2 separate regions of the Homo sapiens genome follow, and region 1 is linked to region 2. The links come from fine-mapping of genetic effects on plasma protein levels. Region 2 holds a variant in brackets. A gene starts in the other region. All regions are shown on their reverse strands.

The links. A credible set is the group of variants that fine-mapping cannot tell apart. PIP is the posterior inclusion probability: the model's chance that the variant is causal. The UK Biobank Pharma Proteomics Project read protein levels with antibody pairs (Olink). The fine-mapping took linkage between variants from a reference panel, not from the people measured, so its PIPs are less certain.
Region 1: it holds the start of ITPR1, and the variant in region 2 is the best candidate, but not a certain one, in a credible set for the plasma level of the ITPR1 protein (UK Biobank, PIP 0.53).

The regions. Positions count from the first base shown.
Region 1 is chr3:4,489,633-4,498,421 of GRCh38, reverse strand. ITPR1 (inositol 1,4,5-trisphosphate receptor type 1) reads right to left here and starts at 5,074. Exons shown (of 62, transcript NM_001378452.1): 1 at 4,817-5,074; 2 at 3,916-3,991. ITPR1-DT (ITPR1 divergent transcript) reads left to right here and starts at 5,259. Exons shown (of 2, transcript NR_108075.1): 1 at 5,259-5,638; 2 at 7,054-8,105. RefSeq lists silencers at 3,143-3,437, 4,736-5,005.
Region 2 is chr15:101,446,195-101,454,983 of GRCh38, reverse strand. The region is part of intron 1 of PCSK6 (proprotein convertase subtilisin/kexin type 6); the gene reads left to right. Among named protein-coding and RNA genes, the nearest start is that of PCSK6, 39 kb to the left of the region's middle. RefSeq lists enhancers at 1,926-2,220, 3,237-3,970. The variant T/C (reference allele first, on the strand shown) is at 3,878.

The DNA of each region.
Region 1 (8,789 bases), not on the chromosome of region 2:
CCTTCCTCCAACATGTCACAAACACTCCTATCTCAGGGCCTCTGTACTTGCTGCTCTGACATTTGGAACACACTTTTTCCCTGACAGCTACAGGGTCAACTCGTTTGCCTCCTTCAGATCTGTGCTGAGATGTCATGTAGTAAAGATCTAATCCCCACCTGAGTACTCCCTTAATACCCCTCATCATGTTTTGTTGCTTTTTAAAATTACTGTAAAATATACATAACATAAAATATACCACTTTGAAATGTTATAACTCAGTGGCACTAAGTACATTCACACTGTTGTGTGACATCACCACCATCCATTTCCAGAACTTTTTCATCTTTCCAAACTGAAACTCTATCCTCAATAAACACTAACTCCCCCTTCCTGTCTTCTATCTCCCCCAGCAATCCCCATTCTACTTTCTGTCTGCAGGGATCTGACTACTCTAGATGCCTCTATAAGAAAAATCATAAAATATGTGTCCTTTTATTTCTGGCTTGTTTCACTTAGCATGTTTTCAAGGTTCATCCACATTGTAGCATGTGTCAGAATTCCCTTTTTAAGGCTGAATAATATTCCATTGTATGTATATTTCACATTTTATCTGTTCATTCATCAGTAGACTTGTGTTGTTTCTACCTTTTGGCTACTGTGATAATGCTTCTACTGACACAGGTGTACAAATATCTGCTCACGTCCCTACTTTCAATTTTTTAAAGTATATACCTTGAAGTGGAATTGCTGGGACATATAGTAATTTTATGTTTAATTTTTTTTAGTAACTGCCATGCTGTTTTCCACAGCAGCTTCACCATTTTACATTCCCACCGGCAATGCACAAGGGATCTAATTTCTCCACTTGTTATTTTCTGTTCCCCCTTTAACCAGTTTTCTTTTTCTCCATAGCTTTTACTACCTCTAATACTATAATACTTACTTGTTTATTTATATTGGCTGCCTCCCACCAACTGAGATGTAAGCCTCTTGGGAACGGGATGGTTTGTTCATTGCTATATCCTGAGCACCTGGAATACATCTTAGTACATAGCAGGTGCTCAAGAAATTTGTTGAATAAAGAATAAAACATTTGAATCGCACACAACTTGAACAGGTCTTAGAGTCTGTTAAATAGATTTACCACACCATGTGCCTTAAACTACATCCAATTTAGAAATCTCAAAGTTGAATGGGTGACGGTTTCAGTGGTGTATCTGGCTTATTCTCATTAGCAATCATCTCAGAACCACAGAAACCAAGAGAATTGTAAGGAATCATAGAAGTTATGTCATTCACATCACCGACTTCAAGCCTTAATTGCATTCATCAATTGAGCTATGCACAAACTTAAAACAGCAAAAATGGAAAAAAAAAAAACTGCATGGACTTCTGGTTAACAGACAGCCTGCAAATGCAATGTGTTTTATTTTTAAAAATCAAACCAATAGTAAACAAGATAGACACTGGCCCTGTGGAGACTCCTTAATTAGATGTAGCCAAAGACAGCTTGACCTAGAAACCTAACTCCAGGCCTACTTTTATTTTGGCTGTTTTTTTCTGTTGTTCATATTTGGTGTTTGTTTTATTTTTGTTTGTTTTCTAAGAGCTGCTCATGAAGAAATCAGACAGTTTCCATGATATCTTTATAAATGAGTTGAAAAGCCATGTGATATTCCCCCCTCTGGAAGTCAGTTGGTTGCACACCATTGGATTAAAGGTTTCTTTTTTATCTTTCTCTCTGCCCACTCTCCTCCCTCCCCGCAATACCAACACCCTGATCTTCCTCACTTAAAAATATTTTGAAGAAAAGACTCTTGATCTTTCTGTGGAGTTCATCTATCTCTTTTTTTCTAAGCAACCATTCCACTTCTCATTCCTAAAGAAAAGATGCCAATTCCCTCCAAAAGACAATCACTTGGTTTAAATAGATACCATTGTCAACCCCAAATGACTTTCATGGGTCTCAAGGCAAGAGCCAGAGTAATTCACTTAGAACATGAAGAACTTTCCCTGCCTGATAAGAATGATATCTTGAAAGGATTTTCTGTTCTGATTTGAATTATTCAAAGAGCAGATTGTACTTTCAGTGTACATATGCATACACACACACACACACACACATGAACTTGAAAGAAAAAATGGAGAACAAAAACGTCTGCACAACTGGCTGCAAAGCAAACTGGAAGGTATATGAAAAGGTATCAACATTTCACATTGCAGTCTAACTGCAGTTTAAACTTTCGAATTATTCAGATGGGGAAACGCCTGATCCTTTTAACCTACTCAGATTCTTTGATGTAAACAATCAAGATGTATTTCAGCTAGGAGGTGAGCCTAATGCTTAACTTACATAATGTTCCTTGTGGTTTTGTTTCTTTTTACTCTCCCCATTCAGGCTTTCCAAAATGAACTCATTACAGTATCTAATACCTCCTCAAATATCTGCACTCTTTTATCCCTATGTTTGTGGCTACATCCTTTCCTTCTTACATCAATGTTATGTATTATTTCATCATTGGTGGGAGGTATGCAAGTTATTTCATCAGTAGCAGTAAGTTTACCATTTTTCCTAGCTTCCCTCTCACCACCAGCATCCCCAAATCAACTGAGGTCCATTTGTGGGATGCAGTACAGCCTCACCGCCTGAGGTTACACCCTGCTCCTACTTTGTACTAGCTACTGGGCAAGTGATTTCACTCTCTGCACCTCAGTTTCTTCACCTGCATCTGACGCACAGGGTTTCTGAGATACATGGCTCTGGACCTGGCTTACAAGTACTTAATGTGTCCATCTTATTATTTTTAGCAACCAGTTAGAAAAGAGTCTGTGGACCAGTTTTTCCTTGCTGTACAGCTAATTCTGAAAAGGGGAACTGGGCCTAATCCTTGGCTCTATGAGCACCCACACAGCCATGTGAGTCAACAGAACTCCAAGAAGAAACTAGAGTTCTCACATCCAAATGCTTCTCACTCCGCCAGTACTCCTGAGGATCTTATCAACAGGAAACAAAAGCACTATACCACTATAATGAAGTGTCTGACTTTTATTTTCTCATTAGAAAAGCCCAAAGATTGTAGCCCAGGGAACAGCTAAATATTTAGAATGTTAAAAAAGTTATTAAGACCCAGCCACCCACCCCCACCTACCTCTGTTACCCTGTTATTTACCATGTTCCTGAACATTTCAGGAGAAAAAACTCCTGATAGCCAAATCTGCAGCAATAGTGATGTACGTGCACCCGTTGAAACCTCCCACTCTTCAAATGCAGTCTGACCATTTTGGGGAAAAAATAGGAACTGTTGTGTTTACAGATAAATGCTGCTCTCAGCTCATATTCCACCACGGGCCCCAAAACAACAGGGACCTGCCAGATTCCTTGACACTCAGGTGGCTTGAGTCAAGGGCTGGATGCTACCACCTTAAGCTTCAATAACTCACTTCCCTTTTTAAAGTTCTAATTCTTTCAACTTGCAGCAACCACTTTCATTTCTTGCAATCCAACCTACTCTGATTAAGCACACGTTCAAAATTAGAAAAGAGTGACTATTTCTTGAAGGAGAGAGGCAGTTAATACTGCTTACACATTTTGGCATATGAAATGCACTGTATCCTTCAGAATTTAAATCATCAGCATGCTTTTCAGACCGGCAATGGGCCGCCGTTTTATTGCTCCATTTAATGGCCTTTTCCCCTCCTCTCTCATAAACTTTCAGGCTCCTTCAATTCTCAGCTACTTCCAAGAAACGGACTGTCCACTGGACCTCTGCTCCCAAAAGCCCTCACCAAAGGCAGAGGCAAATTTTGAAGACTGAGCCACGGAGTTTCTTTTTCTTTCTTACTCCCCACCTCCTTGGCGGTTTAGATAGAACTTAAAATAGGCTTAGGACAAAAACTCATTATTGACTACAGCACTCAGGCTTCCACACTCACCTGACCTGGGTCAGGCACTCTGTTGCCAAAGCAAGCCCAGCGAGGGGTGCAAATCCTGCTCCTCTGTAGTCAGCTCCTAAATATTTAGAAAGAAAGAAGACTGAGTACCAGACCGCGGAAGATGAGCTCTAACAGAAATGCTCCAAATTACAAGTTTCCACCTTCTTTAGCCTCCTTCACTGGGGACAGCCCCCCCGCCCCCAAACTTGGTAGGCAGGTTGGTGGGATCGCTTGGGCGAAGATTCCAGGTAACTACGCTTACTTATTTCCAGGATGTAACTGACAATTGAGACTAGGCACGCACAAACTTCGAACGTGCGGGAGGCTGGAACTAAGGGAAGTGTTTGGCAGATCCCAAAGCACTTGTTTCCCGGCGAGAAGGCCAAGTATCCGAAGCCCGCATCCTCATTGGACATGAGCTTCGTCCACACTTCATCCCTCACCGCTTCTCCGGTTTTCTTCCGTTTTTAAAAACCCTCCCCACGGGGGGCCCCTACACATGCATTATTCTCCCAACCACGGAGCGCAAGAGAGGGATACATTTTTAGAAAGATTATTTCCTTGAGCAGACTCACATATGACACCCCCACAACCTCTCTTCAAAAAAAAAAAAAAAAAAAGAACTATTTCCTGCAGCTGCAGCAACAGTTTCCAACTTGGGGGAATGCCACATCAGACCAGAATGGGGAGCCCCCAAAGCCACGCACTAGAGTAGAGGATATTTGTTTTTTAAGCTTCAAATGAGCTCCCCCCAAAACAACTGCCCGCAGTAAAGGAACCCCCAAATGCATGCCAAGTGCATGCACATCCATCAAGATCTCCCCGAGAGCGGGGCAAAAACTTCTGCGCCCGGGGAGCCAGTGCCAACTCCCCGCGCCCTCTGCCCGGCCCCAGCCGCTACCTTGGTGCCCGGGGAGCCACGCCGGTTTGGGGGAGCAGGGCGAGGAGAGGGGTTAGCAGCCGCTGGGTAATCCCATGTCCGCGAAGAGGGAGCTCGTTCCGTTAGGATGGAAGCGGAACACCCACACCTCCTCTCGGCGTGCGCTTTCTCTCTCTCCACCCCCTGCCTCCTCCTCCACCACCACCTCCTCCTCCTCCTCTCCTCCCACCCCAGCGAGCTTGAGGAAACGCTTCAGCAGCACATCCACATGGTTACTGCACTTTAAAGCGGCTCCGGGTGGCTTATATAGGCCGGGAAGCTCCCTGGGCAATGTAGTCCAAGTAGCGGGTCGTGGCGGCGCCTGAGGCTGCGGGGAGGGACTACAAGTCCCAGAATCCCCTGGGCGCCCGGGCTGGGCCCTAAATAGACGCGTGCGGGGACAGGGGAGGGGCGTCCTGCGAGGCTTTCAGGCTGCTGAGCCTGTTCCTTGGCTGGGGTCGGTAGGGCTTGGAGCCAGCCGTTCAAAGTCACCCCTGGGAAGCGCCCGCAACCCTTGGGGACGCCTCTCCTCCGGCTGCCCCCCTTCCCTGGAATCCAGGTGTCACTGGGGCCGGGGAGGGGCTAGGAGCTCGGATTTCTGCTTTGGGAAGTTTTTACAAGCCCACCCTCCCCCTGCCTTGGTTCCCCGAGCCAAGAATTTCAGAAATCCGGGGCACAAAAACGCCAGTGTTTGCGGTCAAGGATTAAAGGCGCGAGGTGTCTTTATTTAATCTGCTCCGCCCTGCTCGGGTTTGCACGAGAAACCAAGCCTGGGAGCGACGGTCCACGCAAGCGGAGACACAGGCAAGTCGCGTGAGAGCACTTTTCTGAGCCCGAGTTGCTTGTCTTTTATCGCCCGTGAGGAGGTAAAGAAAGGCAGACCTCTCCGGTGCACAAATAAAGGAGCCGTGTTGTGACTTGCCGGCTCTGAGATTGGGAGGCAGAAAATAAATACAAACCGCGACCTCAGTCCTGACCGTACCTCTAGCAGCCCCTCTGCTCCTGGGAGCTGTAAATGCTTAAGTAAATAAACCGCAAACCAGAAAAATAAGGGCTTAGGAAAGAGCCGCTCACACAGAGATGCGCATCCAGGCGGGGCGCTCTCCAAGAGCTCCGAATGGGGCAAGGTGGGTTTCACCCGCTGCCAAGTAATGCCTGGGCTCCCGGGCTACACGCTGCTTAGGGCTCCGGCTTTTGCAAGGAGGGGAAGAGCTAAGCCCGGAGGCAGTCAGCCGACTGCCCTGTCTTGCCTCAAATGACGTATATTCATTCCTCAAACGTTTCCTGAGTGTTTACTAGGTGCCAGGCGCTGGGGCATAGTGGTGAGCCAAACGCATTATAGCATCCCAGACAGGCACTTCCTGACGCCGCCTAAAGATCTGTTATAACAATAGTAATAATAATGATAATAATCAATGGGGAGGCTGATTTTATTGAGCCCAGACCACATGCAGTTTTCATGCGTCATGCTATTGAGTTTTACCAACTGTAGGTATATTTATTATATCTATTTGGCAGGTGCACAATCCAGGGCTCAGAGAAATCAGGTAACTTCCCAAATGACCCCTCGAGTTAAGTGGTACAGCCTGGACTCCCGTTCCAGACTCTACGTGTATGAAACCCTTGTCTTTGGGGAAATCCACCGCCATTGCCTTAAATAGCCTCTCTCCCCATTTAGGAGCAGCCTCTGAGCCCTTGGGCAAGTCATTTTCATCTCTTTGCCCCAGTTTTGCCATCTGAAGGAAATTCTTATTAGAATATGTCTACTTTTTAGCAGGATTCCTTAATATAAAATCGAGTCTCATGAAACTTTAGGAACAAATTAGAGGAGAATCATAGCTAATAGTTATTACTGACATAATAATGCCAAAACGAATCATAATTATTGACACTTATTGGGTGAATGCCATGTGTCAGGCATTGGTCTAAACTCTTTCTGTATAGCACCTAATTAAATCCTATTAAGCCATTTTTTACTTATGAGAAAACTGAGGGGGGGCACAAAGCGATTAAATTACTTCCTCCAAAGTCACACAAATAGCTGAGTCTTGAACCCTGGTCCTAAACTACTAGTCTCCGCTACCTCCCCAATGTAAACATGTGCACTGTATTTGCCTGCTCAGATAAGCATTTAATGTCAGTCCAGGAAGGGGCAAAGCTCTTGAAATAGACAAAGTTTGTGTTCACGATATTCACTCCTGCCCTCCGTTCCCTGTCAGCATTATCCCCTGGTCACTGGACGCTGGGGTCTAGTGCCTAATACGTTAAGCTGCTTCTCCCCATCATCAAGAAACTGCCGCATCTGCCATATAAAGGAGATGTTTCTCATTCGCCCCCACTCATCTCTTCCCCCATGAAAACCTCTTCCATTTTCAAAGGATCTTCGGCTCTACTTTTCAAGCAAATTCAACAAATCAGTGTATGCCTGTGTAACTGGTAAATAGTGAAGGGTAATTATTTCATGTGCTTCTAACTCAGAAACAATGGAATATTAACAGCGGTTTTCTGAAGATCCAGTTGGACAATTTTCATTTTCATCATATAATGGACATTTATCTCCTACCTGCATTATCCACTGTCTTCCCTCGGAGACCACAAATTTCACTGAAGGCAGCATCTATGTCTTATTCATGCTTGTGCTCTCTACCTCCCCTGACCCAGAAGGACTTATTCTTCTTTCTGCACATTTTAGTAGATGTGTTAAAAAAAAAAAAAAAAAGTTTGTTAAGAAGATGTTTTAATGGAAGGTGTGTCAGGCATATGGCAGGATACATGACCATATTTTTGGAGCATGCAACACCTCGTAGCCCATCTCTATCATAGCCTATTTTCTCCGCCTGTATGTATGGATAATCCTATTCAACATTTTTAAGGTCTAGAAGCTGCTAGGTCACTAGAAAGTAATTTTGCTATGATGTGAAGAGGTTCTCTATGATGATGTATGACTGATAAATTATGATGATTAATGTCAGAATATAAGGGTCACTGCCTAACTCATTCTCTGTTATCAGTAGAGGGAAAGGAGCTGCTTTCTCTTCACTATTTTTTTCTAGAAGAATTTTCTATCCCTGTGTTTTCCAGTATAGTGACTACTAGCCATTTAGGCACGTAAGATGTGGCTAGTTCTGAGATGTGAAATAGATGTTAACACATTGAATTTCAAAGACTTAGTACAAAAAAAAGCAAAATATCTTAATTTGTATAGTGATTACATGTTGAAGTGGTAATATTTTGGATATTTGTGTTAAATAAAATAGATTATTAGAATTTATTTTACCTGCTTTTTCCTTTTTTAATATAGCTACTAGGAAATTAAAAATTACATGTATAGCTCATATCATATATTATGCAGCACTGATCTAGAAAACCAAGAATCTGATTCCCAGGATCACAATTCGAGATGATGACCAGCCCATTAAAATGGCCATTTATGACTTTGCCCTTGAAATGTTCATGCAGGGAACTACGAGGGCTTTGCAAGGTCAGTACAGTATCATAGACTGAGCAGAAGTCTGAAGAAAGTCCAAAACTAGCACTTGAGCCTACCCCCAGGGAAGACCTACAAATAGAAGCAGGTTTCATCAGCAGTACACAGCTGAAAACTCTAACTGAATTCATCTGCCTAGAAGCCCACCTCAAATGCTGCCCTGGTTAAGAGAGCAAGATAAGCTGGAGAAAGGAGGGATCGGAGAAAATGGTTTTGACACCCAGCTGTACCATTTATATCCTGTTTTGTTTTGTTTGATAAAGTGATACTAACAATCCTTGCCTTGTCAATCTCACTGGGTCAATGGGTCATAGGACATGAAAGGGCTTTGCAAACTCACCCTCGCTATACTAAAGTAAGAGAATATTATTGACAAGAATGGAGATAATGTTGATGCGTCCTGATACAGTACTCAGTTCCAAACCAAACTTCAGATTATTGGGGCAGCACTATTCCCAATTTTCTCTC
Region 2 (8,789 bases):
ATTCATTCATTCATTCATTCATTCATTCATTCATTTTTTGAGATGGAGTCTCACTCTGTTGCCCAGGCTGGACTGCAGTGGTGTGATCTTGGCTCACTGCAACCTCCGCCTCCTGGGTTCAAGCGATTCTCCTGCCTCAGCCTCCCAAATAGCTGGGATTACAGGTGCACGCCACCATACCCGGCTAATTTTTGTATTTTTGGTAGAGGCGGGGTTTCACGCTGTTGGCCAGGCTGGTCTCTAACTCCTGACCTCATGTGATCTGTCCACCTGCCTCGGCCTCCCAAAGTGCTGGAATTACAGGCAGAAGCCACTGTGCCTGGCCTGAAACTCTGTACCCTTTACACACCAACTCCCCACTCCTCCCTCCCCCACAGCCCCTGGCAACCACATTCTGTCTCTATGAATTTGGCCATTCCAGGTACCGCATACAGGGAGAATCGTTCAGTATTCGTCCTTAGTGCCTGGCTCATTTCACTGAGCACAGCGTCCTCCAGGCTCATCTGTGTTGTAGCATGCATCAGAGTTTCCTCCCTTTTTCAGGCTGAGCCATATTCCATCGTGTGTCCCTGCCAGGTTTTGTCGATCCACTCAACCAGCCACAGACACCTGGGTTGCTCCCACCCCTTGGCTTTTGTGGAAAATGCTGCTGTGAACACGGGTATGCAGATATTTGTTCAGAACCCCGTTTTCACATCTTCGGGTACAGGAGGTATATATTTTTAAGTGAAAATTTGAAGATTAATTTTTCTAGAATTCCTTTTGATTTCCCTTGGGATAACTTGCTCTCAAGTGATGGTGTTTTAGGTATTAAAATGTGAATTTCCAACATGTCTTTCATAAAGACAAAATCTTATTTTTAAAAACCTTGTAGCCTCCTCCAACATGACCTCCCTTGGCCAAGTAGCCATGAGCTGCAGCCCAGCACTGACCCTTCTTTCTGGGGAGTCCAGGAGGGGGCCTGGCAGGAGCCAGACGGGCTCCCCCTGACTGCCTTGGGTGCTCAGTGTAGTTTGTTCTCTGATCCATGATGTAAGCAGCGTGCCCAGGTGTGCTGTGCACAGCCTTTGGTGCTCAAGGTCACAGACACAGTCCACTCTTCACGAGCAGAGCTGCCCTATGCTGAGAGTAGACCTGGACTCGTACCGGAGCCTCTCTCCCCTGGCAAATTCTCTAGATGAGACTTTCTTGAGGATAAGGCACCCCCTACTTCTCGCATACTCAGAAAGAAAAAAGTAAACAGTGGGCCTCCTCAAGTTGGGAAAGTCTCAACCAAATGTCTCGATCCCCACTTTCCAGGCGACAGGCTGCCTGTAGCCTGCAGGCATGTGTTAGGCAGGCTACACAGTGGTGGTAACATGTACAATGAGTTGCCATTATTAAAAACTCGGGAGAGCGCATGTCGGATCCAAATGCTGGCTTCTCTGGAAGAGTTCAGGAGATCTCGCAGTTCTGGGTTCCTGGAGCCTCCGCAGGCTCACCTCCTCCCTGACATGGGGTCCCAGGCTGGGCCCTGTGGGCATCGGGGGTACCTCACCCAACTAGAGAGGCCAAACATGGCACAGGGAAGTTAGCGAGCAGCAGGGAGATGTGGCTCAAATCCATTCCCACTAACACATCAGCTGCACAGGGGCAGCCTGCGGGGAGCAGGGGCGTGTGCTCTGCCTGGGGGTGAGGTATGGGCCCTGGGCACATGGGGCAGGGCCAGGCCTCAAGCAGCCTCCCTACCCCAGAGGTCACCTGCCCTTGAAATACACCTCATTTTCTGTCTCTTTTACAAAATAATTCCTGGATCCCACGGGCCCTCCTTTGATGGGAGGAAGGAATGGGGCAGCTCTGAGAAGCAGTCTGTCGCCGCTTCTCAGCATGGGGTTAGAGAAAGAGTTTTGTCTTCAGTTTAGACCATACATTCTTTAAGCTTTATTTGGGAAAGGGGCTAAAAGGTCTGGTTACCTTGTTTTATTACAATTAAAAATTTCTTTTACAATTTTTTGAAACAATCACAAACTTACAGAAAAATTGAATGCACAGGGCAAAGCTCAACTGACCCAGCGCAGAGAACCTGGTGACCCCGGCCCCGCCAGCCCCAGTGCTCCAGTGTGTCCTTTGCATAAACAAGGACTGTGTCTGCAGAGCCGTGCAGCACAGCCATGGACACCGGGGAATTCCACCGGTCTTTATCAGTTGTAAGGGCCCCTAATGTAGTAACATGTTCCATCTGTGCTCTGTGGGTAACCAATCTGCCATGTCCTGTGTCTTCACTTTCCCTGAGTGGGCAGCCTGGTTATCTGCCTGGACTGACATCTGGAGTAGCCTGTTCCCACCCGTAGCCCCACGGGCTCGATTCCACGTTCCCCCATGTGAGCGCCCTCCTCACCTTCTGAGTTGCAGCAGTGCCTTGTTCTGGGCCACCCCGGATCTTCCCACCCCACACACACCATGTTCTTCCCCATATGATGACTTTAGACTGGAATTTTTCAGGAAAAAGAAGAGTTTTACAGCTTATCTTAAAATTAAAACAAAACAAAACAAAAATGAATACTCAAGAGGCATTGGATTTAGGAATCCGGTAAAACAACTAATTCCAGACAGCCGTAAAGAAACCTGCAACCAGGAAATGATTTAAAATGGAGATCTTCAAAGTCAGGATTGTAGTTTTTTCAGGTAGCTTTTTGTAGACCTTGAAAATATAGGCCGAGACCACATGTAGAAATTAAACGTTCTCATCCGAAGCCGGACCATTTGGTTTGGCGACTTAAGGGAAGAGAAAAATGAAGTTTGCTAAGTAAGAATTAATGATTTCTCAGGAATTTTTAGGATGTTGAACAGCTTAATTGCATAGTTTGGGTGGATATGTGTTGAAGAAAGTAATTTTAGGAGACTGGGAAATTGTGCAATCATCTTAACTTGGGTCAGGATTGTAATTATTGCAATAACAGAATGTTGCTATGTGTATATGTGACTGAAATGGGAAGCAGTTTTTAAAAAATGCTTTAAGAAATAACAACAAAATGTCCATTCTCTCTCTCTCTTTCTGGACTTCCTTAATTATAAATACCAGGTAATCCAGTGCTGGCTAAATATAGGTCCAGTGGTCATCTATATTTATAACGTTTTTTTCAGGCGGAAGTCACTAGAGCAATACAGAATTAATTTGGTGTGTAGGTTTTTATAGAGTCTAATTAGTTGTGTTTTTCTTAAGCAAACCAACCGGGATCAATAACATTATATAACTGAACTCGGACGACCATGACTTTTAGACATAGACTCTTCCCAGAAAGCCAAGGCCCTCGGCAGATGCCGGCCCTGAAGACAGACAAGCGGCTCCGGAAGCAGGCACGCTGCAGCTGCGGAGCGGACGGGGTTTGGAACATCTGTTTCCAGCCAAGGGCAGGCTTTGGGAGTGATAAAGTACAGTTTTTTTTTGCAAAGTCAGAAGCCTCATCTGCAGTCCATTCATCACTGAGGCCTTGAATTGAGACATTCTGTGGCTGCTTATCAGCTGTTCCCGTGTGGAAGGGTTTGGCTGGGCTGGCCTGGGGAGGTGGGGTGGGGATTTTGCAGACTTACCAAAGTATGCGCTTAGCCGACCCACCCCCACCAACAACGCAGCCTGCTCGAGGGCTACGAACTGCACCTGTGTCTGCAGTCACGTCCATTGGAGAGCTGAGTGGGCGGGTGGACCTTTGGAACTATTTGATGTCATTTGGGGTAGATTCGGCGTGCTTCTCGGTGACTTTGCTGCAAATTAAACATGTAAAGTAGATTGGGCTTTCCTCCTCCATTCCTCAGGATCTTCAAAAAACATTTAGTCTTTTCTGGCAGAGTGAACCCGAGCTGGCAGCGCCCACTGAGATTTTGTTTGAAGCCAGCTACA[T/C]TCACATTTAAAGAAACGACATGATGGGGGAGGCCCTTTCTGTAAACCCCAAGCCAGGCCTTTCCCCTCGTGAGGGTTCCTACCCCTCCCTTGTGTGGCCCTGCAAGCCGCTTCTGCTTGTCCACACCTGCGCCCGAGAGTTCTTCTCATGGCTGGTGCGTGCCATGAATGAAGGGCACTGGCCAGTGGAAGGGAGTGCCCGGCCAGGCCTTGCCTGCCTCAAGTCCTCAGACCAGAGAGGCCAGTGGGGGTCTTGCCCAGACCATACAGCCGGGAGGTGGTCTGCCTGGCTCCATAGCCTCCTCCCGACCTCACAGCTGTCCTGGGACGGGGACTGAGAGAGAGCTCAAAGACAGGACAGCAGAGCCCGGGCCAGAAGGCACTGGGGGCATGCTCACCCCACCTCTGGATGCGGGGCCTCACTGGACAGCTGGACACAGATGGGATGGGGGGAGACCTGTGTATCCTCCCAATGTCATTTGGAGACAGAAGTCTGTTCATTTCATCAGGCAGATTTCAAGCTCCTCTGTGTTCCAGACACAGCCAGGCCCTGAGAATTGACAGACAACATAGCTCCTGCCCTTGAAGGCTTATGGTGGAGGGAGGGAGGACAAAGGGTGTCATAGCCATGTCTGGGCATACAGGGCCTGGGAGGCCTGAGAGGGCTTCCTGGAGTCAGTGACAGCCGAGGGGATGGTTAAAAGCAGAGTAGGAGTTGAGGGGACTTGAGCGAGCACAGGGGTGTGAAACGGTGTGTGAGGGCAGGGCCCCTTACACTGGATGACAGAGGGCAGTGTGGGCAGGGCCAGGCCTGTGGCTGGAGAGGGGTCCTGGCTGGTCGTGTATTCTCCGAGACAAGGAGGAGTCAGGGTGGGAGTGTCAGTGCGGTGGTACGGGAGAGACTAAGAGGCCAGCGAGGGTCCAAGCAGAGGGGTGGGGCTGCCTGCACTAGGGCTGGTGCGATGAGGGGAGCGGGTTTGGGAGCCATTAAGAGCCCCCTTTGGGAAGGTTTGGTGGTGGCTTTTACCAAGACAAGGAACGCCTCAGGAGGAGAGGTTTGGGGTGCAGGATGGCGAGGGTGCAGTGTTGTTGATGCTGCTCTGGCGTGGTGGAAGTTATGTGCTGACCTAGGGGTCCTGCCAGGAGCCAGTGGATAAAGATGGTGCAGATCCGGCCCAGCCCCTGGAGGACTCAGCCATTATGGGGCCACGTGCTTGGGACCCCCTTAGGCGGGAGAGGCTCCCCAGAGGAGATGATGCTGAGCTGAGCCTGGAAGGACCCAGGATTGGTTGGCAGGAAATGAAGAAACAGCCTTCTGGGCCTGTCTTCTCGGTATCTCATGCAGTTCCTGGATACAGCTCAGCTTCTCCCGCAGAGGATTTCAGAACCCACCTCCCCAGTGGCTGTTCAGACCTCTGGAACCAGAACGTCCATCTGGGGCCAAGCCCCCACCCACATGGGGTTGCTCAAGCTACTCAGGTGAAGCTGACATGTACGAAGGTGGCGAGCCATAGATCTGGAGTTCTGAGTTAGGGCAACCCAGCAGTGGCCCCAGGAGGCTCACTCGGATGTGAGAACTGTGGGAAAACCAAGGACCTACCTGGTATGTTTCAGAGTCATTTGTTTATGAACCTTACATAAACACACACACCTGGATATGTATATACACGTGTATATGCACAGATACACACACACGCCTGAATACATATGCAGTTGGCTGTCTTTATCCACGGGTTCCACATCTACACATTCAACCAACCTCAGGTCAAAAACATGAAAAAAAAATGTATGGTGGATGTAGAAACTATTTTCTTGTCATTTTTCCTTAAACAATATGGTATAACAACTATTTCCACAGCATTTACATTGTATTAGGTATTATAAGTAGTCTAAAGATGATTTAAAGTATTGGAGGATGTGTGTAGGTTGTATGCAAATATGATGCCATTTTATATCAGGGACTTGAGCATCTGTGGATTTTGGCATCTGCAGGGTGGCCTGGAACCAGCCCCCCACGGATGCCAAGGCATGACTGTATACATATATATACATCTGTATACAAACACTTGCACATCCATATACATATGCACACACACACACCGGCATACGTATATACACGTGTATACAACACTCACACATTCTATACATCCACACATATGCACACACACTCGTATACAGACATAATGGAATAATATGTACCTGAAACATAATATAGGCCTCCCATGATTTCCTTATTGAAATGAAGGAAAGTGCACACATGCTGAGGGTACTGGTTCTCTGGGAAAGAACCTGCCGCAAAGGACAAGGACCAAGGTGCCTGAAATTCCCCATGGTAACTAACAATCTTAACCATGCCGAGAGGCAGAAGGTTCAACGGTGAAGAATCCTGACTGTTCATTGACTAAATGAATCTTGAACAGTTTCACTGCTCTGTGCCTCAGTTTCCCCATCAGTCAGATGAGGATGGTCATAACATCTACTCCCTACAGTTGTTATGAAAATGAAGCTTATTAATTCATCTGAACTCCAAGCTTGCTGCCTGGAATGGGGCATGTGCCCAGCAAGCGTCAGCTGTTGTAATGAGCCAGGGGCACTCGGTAATAGTGAGGATCCCTGGCTGGGGGACAGGTGAAGGAGGGGGAATTGCTGTTCCCCACTAACTCTGTACCCTTTTGTACCTTCCATGTTTTGTATCATGTGCACATATTACCTATATTTTTTTAAATGTCAGAGCATCTTGTTAAAGAGGATTACACTACATTAAACTCTCTTCACTGTGAGTTCTTTGATCTCATTCCTTCCAGTGTTCTGGTCAAGAACATTTAGCAAGGTTTGTAATGATGTTCTAATGATGTTATCAGTTTGATCAAGTAATGCATATAATCGCCTATCAACGTTGAGTAAAGAAACATGAGCACCCTGTATTCAGCAAATTGTTTATTTTCTTGAATGGTGCATGAGACGGGCTCTAATTAATTCATTGTGAAGATACCACGGGCACCAAAGAGAACAAGAACGTATTTAAATTTCATGTTATGACATTACAAAGACAATGCCTTGTGGACTAGCAGTCAGATTCATTGATGAAGAGCAGATGGAGGTCAGGGGAGGACACGGGGCTGAGCAGGACTGGGACGCAGCCTGGGATGGTGGAGGCAGCGCCTCCCTTCTATAATCGAGGGAAGGAGGAGGAGGCTGCCAGGGCCCTCCGATAGCGGCAGTCCGTGGAAGCCACCGCTCCTGATTCTAAAGGCGGGCTGCTCAGGCACCGGCTGGAGAAGCGGTGCGTAGTCGATGAGCTGTGAGCACGGGAGCAGAGCCAGCGCCTGGTGTGGACACCGTCCGAGGCCACAGCCAAGCAGCAGCCACCCAGGACGTCCAGGCTGCTGAGCAGGGAGGAACACCTGCCATCAGGGCAAATGCCACATAAAAAAAGAACCTCACTTTACCTGGAAGATTATTTGGAATTTTGTCTTTAGGCCGCCCCCTTCCTGAGTCCACCGCTGTCCATTTGACCCTGAAGAGGTCCTAAAAGTGTGGCAGTCATCTTAAACCCTACTCGTGTATCTGTATGTCATTTAGTATCAAATTTTGTCACCTGCTTGTCTGTGAGCAGAATGGGGAGGCTGCTGGTTTAGGAACTGGGAGCCCCACAGTGTGACATAGTCTTAACCTCCCTGGGCCTCAGTATACTCATCTGTGAAATGGGGACATCTCTGTGGGTCCTTGTCACACCCTAATCTGTGAGTCAGGGCCAGAGGGCAGCCAGGTGTCCTTCATGTTCAACCAGGCCAGTGGCCACATCCCCACAGGTGACCCTGCGTGAGCCTGGGGGCCTCACAGCCTGGCATCCTGTCCCCCTTCCCCATGAAGGCACCCAGAGATGTGAAGGAACAGCCTCCCTCACTGGGGAGGGGCAGAACCTCCTCGTACCTGGGGTGGACCCTGCTGTGGTAGGTCAGATGAGAAGCCTAGAAGGGCTTAGGTGGGTGGGGAGGACGAGAGACAGCAATGGCTGTATCATAAACGCAGCATCATCCGGGCCGACGAGACTTTCAATGGGCCTGTGTTCCTGGGCAGCTGCTCCTGCCTCCTGCTGTGTCACCTTTGATTCTCTCACTGGTTTTGCCCGTGATGAAAACCTCACACTCCTGACCTGGTGCCTGATGTTGCAAAGGGAGGGCAGAGGGCAGGACCACATGAGTCAGACAGAAGGACGGGGCCTCTTGGAGCATCTGACAAGGTTTATGGAAAAAGCACGTCTCAGAGACTCAATGAGATGCTGAAGGTCTAGGCTTGCAGCCGCACCTGTGTTTGAGTCACTCCGTGTATGGACCGCCACTTCCCAGCCCTAGAGAACCCTTGCTTGACATCAGAGACTTTGGTGAACTCCCCTGATACTCTCAGCAGCAAATGCTGTACATCACAGGCTGGCAGCCTTTTCTGTTTCAGAGTTCACATATGAACTCTTTGATCCTCGTGGGCTCTAGGGTCTCTGTTGCAACCACTCAGCTCTGCTATTGTAGTAGGAAGGCAGCCATGAACAGTAGGGAAAGGGTGGGTGTGGCTATGTTCCAAGAAAATTTATCAAAAAACGGTAGGTGGATATATACCCAAAAGAATTGAAAGCAGGGACACGAGCAGATATTTGTACACAGCAGCATTATTCCCAGCAGCCAAGCAGTGGGAGTAATCCACGTGTCCATAAATAGATGAATGAATAAACAAAATGTGAGATGTGCAGATAACGGAAGATTAGTCAGCCTTAAAAAGGAAGGAAATTCTGACACATGGTCCAACACTGATGAAACATGAGCACATTATGCTGAATGACATAAGCCAGTCACAGAGGACGAATGTGTGATTCCAGCTTCTTCTGCAGCTGGCTTTGCAAGGGCAGCCTTGGCTGGTG